Regions from separate parts of the Homo sapiens genome. Here region 2 is reported to be linked to region 1. The links are microRNA targets in miRTarBase. Many come from high-throughput screens and were not tested one by one. Region 1 holds a microRNA gene; the other region holds the end of a gene's coding sequence.
Evidence for each region. The annotated mature microRNA hsa-miR-1973 reads ACCGUGCAAAGGUAGCAUA and lies in region 1 at 2,009-2,027, opposite strand. An mRNA with a match to its seed (bases 2 to 7 or 8) in the 3' UTR can be bound and repressed. Matches are read on the target gene's strand: a 7mer-m8 pairs with bases 2 to 8, a 7mer-A1 pairs with bases 2 to 7 and ends in A, and an 8mer does both.

Region 1 (5,414 bases):
TATTTTTCAGGACCTTCTCTGTTGGAATCCAGATAATAGAATAAGAATAGAAAAAAAATGAAAAGAAAATCAACGAGTATACTAAACTGACTTGTATGATGAGTGTAAAGGTAAAGAGACTAGGAAGAGTGAAGAAAATGCCTGTTCTTTCATAAGCAAAGACTTGAATGGGCAGGTGTTATCAACTGGACTCCCTGTAACATTCATTGTTCCACAAGCAAACACACTTGATGATGAGGAAATTATTGGCCCAGTTTAAGGATAAAGGCAAGTTCTGTATGTACTTAAGCATTTCTAGTGAATCATGTGAATGTTCTGAACTGGGAAACTTCAAAAGCAATTTGCCTTAAAAATATTAGGTAATAAATTATAGTCTATATTATAATAAAGGTCCATTTTTGTCAGGTCTATATTAGAATTCTCTAGTGTTTATATGGTAATTTGTCCAATATAGTCCTTTTTAACAACATTCAAGCTTAAAAAGCTTGCCATTGTCTTCATTGGAATATAATTATTAATTTTATGACTATGTTGTAAGTTAAATGCTTAGCATGGGAAATTTCCCATGTTTCAGACTCATTTCTTTATGAGAGCTATGAATTTTTATGTTGTCAGAAAGCAGTAACTTTCTTGCAGTATGCCATATTAAATTGCTGACAATAACAGATTCATTTCTCAAAACAAATGCAAGTGTGAATTTTTTTATCATAATTAGACATTAAAATGTGTTTTCAATGACTTTTGAATGATAGACTTACTTTCAAAATGTCTTTTTGCAAAAATTGGTACACATGATACCATGAATTTTATTAGTTATGTAATAATTGAGCATATATTTAAAATCTGCACCTCCAGAGTGGGGAAGGACTAAATGGTGCTGATACAATTGATCGAATATGAGAGTCTCAATAGCAAGGGTAATGTGGGAGAAAAAAATCATGTATAACTACAAGTCATAGATAACAGAAAACTATTCAAATCTAAATTAAAATTGATTTTATATAAATGTTTTGATTTAAAATACATCATACCCTAGGAGCATATGTACCATTCTAGACATGTCATACAGAAACATAGAGATAAAACAACAGTTGAAATAACATAAAGTCATGAAAAGTGTACTACTTCCATGATGACCAGGCAAGCTTCTGGTCATTGAAATGATACAGCTGTGGCATGACCAGCATTAATGACAGTCTCTTTCAGGGTATTGTACATGTACATGGTACATGTAAATTTGAAATAAGGGTAATTTACATGATGTAAACTACCTTACATGTATATATAGAAATATATATATGATAAATAAGATTAGTTTTCTAGATTTTTGTTGCTTATATGTTATCTGTAAACATTTTTCTGTTTTTCTGATACATATGTCTACATTGAGAAAAATACTTTTTAGTAATCTTAGTGGTTTTGACAATATATGAATTTTTCTTTGCATGGAAGACTATATGGAGTGAGGGCACTTTATGAAGTGGGCCCTATTTCTCTTGTCCTTTCATACTAAGATAAATGTTATATAGATAGAAACTGACCTGGATTACTCAGGTCTGAACTCAGATCACATAGAACTTTAACCGTTAAACAAACGAACCCTTAATAGCGGCTACACCATTAGGATGTCCTCATCCAACATCGAGGTTGTAAACCCTATTGTCAATACTTTTATCCGTAGGGTAATTTATTCCGTTGATTGAATTATTTGGTCAATGTGTACTAACTCGCTTAGACTACTGCAGTCTTAGTTTAGGTTGTTCGGAGGTTGAACTATGCTCCGAGCTCACCCCAACCAAAATTTTTAATGCAGGGATAGTAGGCCAGGGCCTCTAGACTTGTTTGGGTTTTTATTTGCATTAATGAATTAAAGCTCCATAGGGTTTTCTAGTCTCATTTGTTTATATCCGCCTCTTCACAGATAGGTCAATTTCACTGATTAAAAGTAAGAGACAGCTGAACCCTTGTGTGTCCATTCATACAAGTCCCTATTTAGGGAACAAGCGATTATGCTACCTTTGCACGGTCAGGATACCATGGCCGTTGAACATATGTCACCGGGCAGGCAGTGACTCTAAAACTGGTAATGCTAGAGGTGATGTTTTTGGTAAACAGGTGGGGTAAGATTTGTCATGTTCCTCTTACTTTTTGCAATCTTTCCTTAGAGCATACCTTAGTTGGGTTAACAGTGTAAATAATAGGGTGCTTATTATATCATTTATTAATATTAGGTTGTTAACTGTCAGTGGGTTATTCCAGTCTGATGTAAACGTATGCAATGGAGAATGTTTATATTAACATTATTGGTTCTATTAAGTAATTGATTAGTCCAGTATGATGTTAGGAGTTCAGTAGAGTGATTAGAATTGAAGATAGTTAGATGTTGAGCTTTAAATGCTTTCTTAATTGGTGGCTGCGTTTGGGCCAACTATGGTGGTAGTATTTTTTACTCTCTGTAGGAACGTCGTTTCCTAGGGTCTACAGAGCTGTCCCTCTTAGACTAACAGCTAAATTTACAGGGAGAGTAAATAATTCTGTGGGTAAGTTTAAAGTTGAACTAAGATTCCACGTTGGACAACCAACTATCACCAGGCTTGGTAGGCTTGTCACCGCTAGTCATGAATCTCCCAACTATTTTGCCACATAGATGGGTGTACTCTTCAGTTGTTCTTGGGTAGCTCATCTGGTTTTGGGGGACTTGGCTATAATCCTCTGTGTAAAGTTACTTCTAGTTAATACATTATGCGGAAGGTATAAGAGCTTGTCTTTGCTTTTTAGTGCTTTATATAGTTCTTTCACCTTTCTTTTACGGTACTATGTCTACTACACCAGGGTAAAAATTTCTATCACCTATACTTTCGTTTAATGTAAATGGTTTGATTAAGATAGTTTGATAATATTTTTAGCGAGGTTTGGGGCTAGCGTTGGCTCAAAGTGAACAGATCATGATGAAATCTTCCAGGTGTAAGCCGGATGCTTTGGGTTAAGCTACACTTTGGTTTGTCCAAGCGCCCTTTCCAGTACGCTTACCATGTTACAACTTATCTCCTCTGTATGTGCATAGAAAGTTTTTAGTAATAGTGATTTCTAGAGTAATATTTGAGGAGGGTGATGAGCGGTGTGTGCATGCTTCATGGCCTTATTCAACCAAGCACTCTGCGCTTGGTTTACTACTAAATCCTCCTTGAGCCCTTAGATTTCATAAAGGTTGTTGTGAGATTTGCCGGATATAGAAAATGTAGCCCATTTCTTGCCACCTCATAGGCTGTACCTTGACCTAATGTTTTTATATGTGTACTTGTGCTTACTCTGTAACTTTTTTAGGGTTTGCTGAAGATGGCAGTATATAGGCTGCGGGCAAGAGGTGGCAAGGCGGTTGTATCGGGGTTTATCAATTATAGAACAGGCTCCTCTAGAGGGATATAAAGCACCGCCAAGTCCTTTGAGTTTTAAGCTGTTGCTTGTAGTACTCTGGCGAATGGTTTTCTCAATGTAACTATTAGAGTTTAGGGCTAAGCATAGTGGGGTATCTAATCCCAGTTTGGGTTTTAGCTATTGTGTCTTCAGGGTATTAAAGCCACTTTCGTAGTATATTTTATTTCAGCTGTAGTTTTTTACAACTCAATTGGAGTTTAGCTTTATTGAGGGTAGACCTTAATTAAACACTCTTTACGCTGAGTTCTGTCAGCTCGGGTTAATCATATGGTCGCGGTGACTGGCACGAAATTGACCTATCCTAAATATTAGTATAGCTTAGTTAAACTTTCGTTTATTACTAAAGATTTATCACTGCCGTTTCCCATGGGGGTGTGGTTGAGCAAAGTTGTTTTGAGCTGTATTCATGCTTGCTTGATACCTGCTCCTTTTGATCCGGGTGACCTAGAGGGCATTTTCACTGGGGCAGGGATGCTTACATGTGTAATCTTACTAAGAGCTAGTAAAAAGGCCAGGACCAAACCTCTCTGTTTATAGGGTTGTGCGGATCCATCTAGACATTTTCAGTGTCTTGCTTTGAATAATTAAGCTACATTAACTGCATAAATTCTTAAGTGTAAATATTAAAATATGAGAAATAAATAAATAAATAAAAATAGTCGTTTACAGTTCTGGAAATTCAGGGTCTTTAAAGTTGAATTGGCAGAGGTTTGGCTAAGAAGATCACTCATAATCAAGAGTATGATTGATTTAGGAGATGATATATGGGGCAATGCTTTCGGGGGATATGCTCAAGGTATTATATTAGTATTAGGGCAGAAATTTAGTTATTATATTTATTATACAAAGTGGAGGATTAATTTAGTAGGAGGGTGTTAAGATTTTTTAGAAAAATTACATCAATCGAGGGGTAGCTGTTGAGGCGTTCATGGTTAAAATATGATTTCTGGGCTCTGACTGGGCTGCATTTTAGTCTTTTGTTTTTGGGGTTTGGCAAGGATACATTTAGCTAGGTTGATAGTAAAGTCAGAGATGCGGGGAGGGGGTATTGCAGATTTAATCGGAAATAGTTCTTGAAATTCAGAGTGCATGCGACGGGCGTGAGCGTCGGTACGGGCGTGAGCGTCGGTACGGGCGTGAGCGTCGGTACGGGCGTGAGCGTCGGTACGGGCGTGAGCGTCGGTACGGGCGTGAGCGTCGGTACGGGCGTGAGCGTCGGTACAGGCTTGCGTGTCTATTAATTGTTATGTCCTTCAAGCATGAATTAAGTAACACCTTCTGGTTATAATGCCAGCCTGGAATATGAATATAAGGTTAGCTTCTACAATTGATTTGGCAGGAATCAAATCCGAGTTCCTCTACTGCGGATTCGGCAGGGACCAGGTGAGTGATAGCATCCCCCAAAGTTAAAAGTACCAAATGCATGACATGACAGTGCTCCTGTGACTGGTTAATAGGGTGGTAGTCATTAGTCCATGGAAATGTCTTATTTAAGGGGAACGTGTGGGCGATCTTAATTCTATGGCCCTGAAGTAAGAACCAGATGCCAGGTATGGTTTCAGTATAGTCACCCCCAAGTGTCATGGGCCTGGAACCAGGAGGGTGCCACTCCTGAGAGGGATGATGATTTCTCAGTGGTTGGTAGATTAAGAGAGCAAAATTTGATAGGGGATATACATGTTGACGAGGGATTTCTTGACTGAAATGTGCTATGTCCGATGAACGAATGTATGCACTGTGATTTACAGTATGGGTCAATATCCACGTGGGTTAGATTTTATTGTACAGTCAATAGTAGATGTGTGATAGTTGATTAAGAAGTTATTAATATGTGCTTCTATGCATGTGGACTATGCTTGTGGAAGATCATAATTTAGGAGGTGTTAATATTAAAAAAAAACCTAAGAATTCTGTAAATATCAGTAGATAGAGGAAACAACATACACAGGAATAAACGTAACATGATGTGCAATGAAATT
Region 2 (5,207 bases), not on the chromosome of region 1:
GAAGGAGCTGGGTCAGTGAATAAGAATGGGAAAGTACCCCAGTCAGCAAAGGTTCAGATATGTCACCAACCAAACGCAGTCCCTCTTGTTTTTGCTTTGAAGGTTGAATAGTCAGTCTTGGCTCTTATATTTAGCTTAATCACCAGTAAAACACCTTCATGATGAATGTATATAAGTTCACTAGGATTTCAAGCAACTATTTTCCAGGTATCTAGGACCCTCTTATATGATGTATCAGATAACTTGGGCCTACTTCAGTCTGGAGTTGGTTTTGTTCCCATGAGTTTCTTATGTGAATGTTTTGCTCTAATTCTGGCTCTCATAAAAAATCATCTCCCCTGAAGGGGAGACCCGGTGGTAGGAAATCCCAAGCACACCTTTTCTCCAGAACTATCAAGGGTCAGAATAGCCAAGAGTCATCAGTCACTTCCCCTGCTGACCCTCTGGGGAAATGCTACTAAGAAAACAGGGCCAGAAGGCAGAAGCTTAGCCACCAGAGGCCAACTCTAACAGACTGATGGTCCTTTACTTTGCCCATACTTTATAGCTATTTCAGGAAATAGTAAAGCATTCTAGTTAATAGATGAGATCTGGAACCAGCTAGTTTGGTTCTGAACTCTGGATTCACCGCTTACTTGCTGAGTGACTAGTGACCTTGGGCAACTTGTATAACCTTTCTGTGCTTCAATTTCCTTATCTGTGAAAGGGAATTGTAATGGCACCTACCTCGTAAGATTGTTGTGAGGATTCAACGAGATAATGTATTCAAAAGATATACAGCACTACACAGGAAAGAGTAAGTACTCAAGCTATTATTGTGTCTCTAGGAACCGGAGTTTATTGAAGGAGGAAGACCCTGCTGTGCTTATCTCTGAGGTCCTAAGGAGGAAGTTTGCTCTAAAGGAAGAAGATATCAGTAGAAAAGGAAATTGACAACCCTCAGCTCTGCAAACTCAGTCTCATGCTCCTGGAATACCTTCAATAGCTGCCTTCCTCACCGCAGATGTTTCTGCCTCTTAAGGATAGATCTTCTGCAACAGTCTTGCTGACAAGCTAGAGCTTGGACTGAAAGAGAAGAGCTGGATTATATATTTCCCAGACTTCAAACCCTAGCAGAAGCTAAGGCTTGTGATTTGACCTGAGACATTTGTTTCAGGTAATCGTGTAGAATGAAGTATCTTAGTTTAAAGGGTAAGAGAGAAGTTGTTTCTGGTTTTTCCTTGCCCCTGTGTGAAAATAGGTCCTAAATGACTGACTTCACTGCATTAGACCCTATAGCTGGTCTCACAAGACACTTTGTGCCCAGCTGTCACTCACTCAGCAGCTTCCTTGCAGCAGAGCAGGGCTGAGGGGAAGGGGCTATGAATGTTTGTATACATGTTCACAGGGCACGGAAAATCTTATGCTGCTCCGTCATAAACCTACACCAATGCCCAGCAATCACCCTCCTCACTTCCTTGTCTAGATGTAGAGGTCAGGCTGCTGAACCAGCCAACACATGGGCTACTGCTGGGAAGCCTGGGCTGTTTTTTTTCTTAAACACATTTTATATTACTGAACAACCAAATCTACCCTCCACGGCCCTGAGGCCTTATCAGTTCCACTGATTAAAAACTTTCTCTTCCACGGACTTTAAGCCCGGTAGGAAAGAGAGAGGAGGAGGGGGAAAGAGCAAACCATCTTTCTTCCAGGCCCTTGACTGCTCCTTTGGGCTGGGCCAAGGTTTGTATGTACCACACCATGCATGACTCAGATGCCCTCAGGTCCCTTTCTCTATGGTATGTATACTGCTTGTGTTTGGGTTGAAGCACTACCTGACATTAAAGGAAGGACTTGGAGAGAGAATGCATTTGCTGTGTCCATCTCTTGAGTTGCGATTACCCAGTATCCTTCAGGGGCATAGGATTATTGTTAATTTTAAGGTGTATGAACTTAAACAGGCTACTGGCTTCTCCTCTTTCCTTATAAGGTCCTGCCCTTCTAGGGGGTTTCTTCCCCCTTTCTGTAGAGATTTTGCCCTATACTCTTTTTCTTTTTTTTAGAAACAGTATCTAGCTCTGTCATGCCGGAGTGCAGTGGTGGGATCATTAGCTAACTGCAGCCTCCAAACTCCTGGGCTCAAGTGAGCCTCCCACCTTAGCCTCCTGAGTAGCTGGGACTACAGGTATGCACCACCACACCCAGGAAATTTTTAAATTTTTTTGTAGCGATGGGGTCTTGCTATGTTGCCCAGGCTGGTCTTAAACTCCTGGTCTCAAGCAAACCTCCCACCTCAGCCTCCCAGAGCGTTGAGATTACAGACATGAGCCACCGCACTAAGCCCCATACATTCTTAAAAGCAGGTCTTCCAGGAAAATGACTGGAGAGATGACATACACGATAAAAGTAGAATTTAACATTTAAATTAGGCCAGGCACAGTGGCTCACACCTCTAATCACAGCACTTTGGGAGTTCAAGATCAGCCTGGGCAACAAAGCAAGACCTCATCTCTACAAAATATTTTAAAAATAATTAGCTGGGCATGGTGGCATGTGCCTATAGTTCAGCTACTCGGGAGGCTGAGGTGGGAGAATCACTTGCGCCCAGGAGGTCCAGGCTGCAGTGAACCGTGTTCATGCCACCACACTCCAGCCTGGGCAAGAGAGCGAGACCGTGTCTCAAAAAAATAAAATTTAAGTTAAAAAAAAAAAAAGAAGCAGTTCTCTTATAACCTTGCAAGTTTGTCCCTTAGAGGTTGTTTAAGCCTCTTAGATACCACATCAACAACAAGGAATAATGCCTTGGGTAGAAGACAGGTCAAACTAGACTCTGGTTCAGATCAGGCTCAGGGCAATGACAGCATATACTATTACAGTGTTGCCTTTTCAAAAATAAAATTGGTAATGGTTTAATTACCAATTATCACAAGAGCCACTTTGTAAACATTTATTTGGATTCATAGTTTTACAAAGGGGATTCCCTCCTATCTTGTGGGAAAAGGGTAACAGAGTCACATCCAGATTGTTGTACAGCTCAGGCTTTTTAAGGGAGATATTTAAACATAGAGTATATAACTTTAAAGTGCTGTACAGTTACCACAAAAATAAAATAGGAAACTAGCACCATTCTACCTCTCTTCTCTCCACACCTGGGTTGTGGGGAGATTTGCTAATCACTGAAAAAAAAGGGTCAAGAGTAATCATCCCAAGCTTAGGCTGATGTGGGTTAAGATCAGCCAGAGATTAAAAGCTCACACATCTGGCTGGGCGCGGTGGCTTATGCCTGTAATCTCAGCACTTTGGGAGGCTGAGGTGGGCGGATCAGGAGGTCAGGAGATGGAGACCATCCTGGCTAATATGGTGAAACCTCGTCTCTACTAAAAATCCAAAAAAAATTAGCTGGGCGTGGTGGCGCATGCCTGTAGTCCCTGCTATTCGGGAGGCTGAGGCAGGAGAATCGCTTGAATCCGGGAGACAGAGGGTGCAGTGAGCTGAGGTCGCACCACTGCACTCCAGCCTGGCAACAGAGCGAGACTCCATCTCAAAAAAAAAAAAAAAAAAACACATCCATAAGCAAGGTCCCAGTCAGACATCTGGAAGGGCAAAGAGATGGCTCTGTGCAGGCTGAGTAAAAGGCACTTTCATAGAGATAAATACCCACTGTGCTGCCTCAGTGTTCATCATAGACTCATTCAGGGAATTTACCAGCCACCACCTTCCTGAGGGAAAGCCATGATGCCAATCCCACTGTCTTAACAATGGTACTGCCCTTTATTTACACAGAGAAGATGCTCAGTAATGACAACTTCATCCCATGCCACCTTCCCACCTAAACAAACTCACTCCTCTCTCCACCCACAACTATATTTTCCTACATCTCTATCATTTCAAGGTACTTTTAGAAACAAAGCTTCAAACATTTAGAATTGGTGTCTGATAACTTGATTACCTTCAGAGTCCTGGGTAAAGAGCAAATCAGGCTTCAGATTTTGAGTTGGCCCATCCTCCTGGCACTGAGCCCAAGGACTGTTAGGAAACGGCCCTAAGTCCCAATTCCAGTTATTGGTTACATCTTGAAAAGGAGCTCTAGTGTTGTGGGCAATGACCCGCTGGCCTTGAGAATCTTCAGTGAAAAGTTGACTCCAGGAGTCCTTGTCATTCTTTTCATTGTCCCAGGAAAACACAGAAACTGGACTACGGCTTTGTTTCACTGATTCTATGTTTTCTCCATTCCAGGATTCCCTGTATGTTTGAAGGAGGACAGGGGCCTGCCTGTTTTCTTTGGCAGACACCTTTCTTTCCAATTTAGTCTTGCCTAAGGGCTGACAGCATTTGTCCCCAGGTAGTTTGGTGTGTTTCTCCATACTCTGATAGTTCTTCTTAGACTCATGAAGCCATTCCCATTTCCTGGCAGAATCCCCTTTTTCTTCCTTTCGGTCTAGCAAACAAGAACTTTCCAAGTCCTCGGTGAAGGAAAAAGCCAGTGGGGTATGACTATCTCCAGCACAGTCTGGAGTATCAGGCTGGAGCAAAGATAGCTCAGTTGAAAATGGGGTTTTCATTCTGTGGTGGCCAGAAGTCTGGAGGGACTGAGGAGAGAGTCCAGCTTCCTGGATGTCTGCAGTGGTTGAAGTGGCTAAAGGGGATGCCATGCAATCGTGTGCTAAGCCTGGGATCAAATGGTCTAGCTGGGTCGCATTTTTCTTGGACTCTTTGTTGATCTGACTTTCTGTATGAGATGAAACACTCTTCTGGTCACTGCCATTTGTCTTTCCTAATAAAACAGGAATGAACAAATATTATTCTGCAGAAAAACTGCCCTAAGCAGGATTCAGTTGGCTTTTTCTGAAATCAGTATCAGCTACTATTACTACCTAGTGCAGGAGTCTTAAGACTCTTCACATAACTTTGTAGCCAATCTTCCTGTTTTCAATCTTGCCAGTCTATCATGAATAAACTCTAAAACATCAGATCTTATATTCCCTACTCAAATACATGGATACTTCCCATCACCTACCTAATAAAGTCAAACATCGCATACGATCAGACCATAGCCTACTTTACCAGCTGAGTTTTCATTTGTAGGTTTGTTTAACATACGGCACATCAGTTTTGCTTTTGTTTTTTATTTAATGTGGTTTTTTACTAAATGGTGATCCTGGTCAAATATACATTCCTAGACATTATCCTTAAAGAAACATGCTAAACACATACTAGTTTTGTAAGGT

Region 2: miRTarBase lists MTFR1L as a target of hsa-miR-1973. Seed matches in the 3' UTR shown: 7mer-A1 at 1,389-1,395.

Annotation. Positions count from the first base shown.
Region 1 is chr4:116,296,363-116,301,776 of GRCh38, reverse strand. MIR1973 (microRNA 1973) reads right to left here and starts at 2,052; the gene lies at 2,009-2,052. LOC105377383 (a long non-coding RNA gene) reads left to right here and starts at 4,599. Exons shown (of 2, transcript XR_939096.3): 1 at 4,599-4,818. It also overlaps the pseudogene MTRNR2L13.
Region 2 is chr1:25,831,094-25,836,300 of GRCh38, forward strand. It overlaps MTFR1L (mitochondrial fission regulator 1 like), which reads left to right. Exons shown (of 7, transcript NM_001099625.2): 7 at 828-1,845. The coding sequence ends at 933. AUNIP (aurora kinase A and ninein interacting protein) reads right to left here. Exons shown (of 3, transcript NM_024037.3): 3 at 2,913-4,753. The coding sequence ends at 3,900. Among named protein-coding and RNA genes, the nearest start is that of MTFR1L, 14 kb to the left of the region's middle.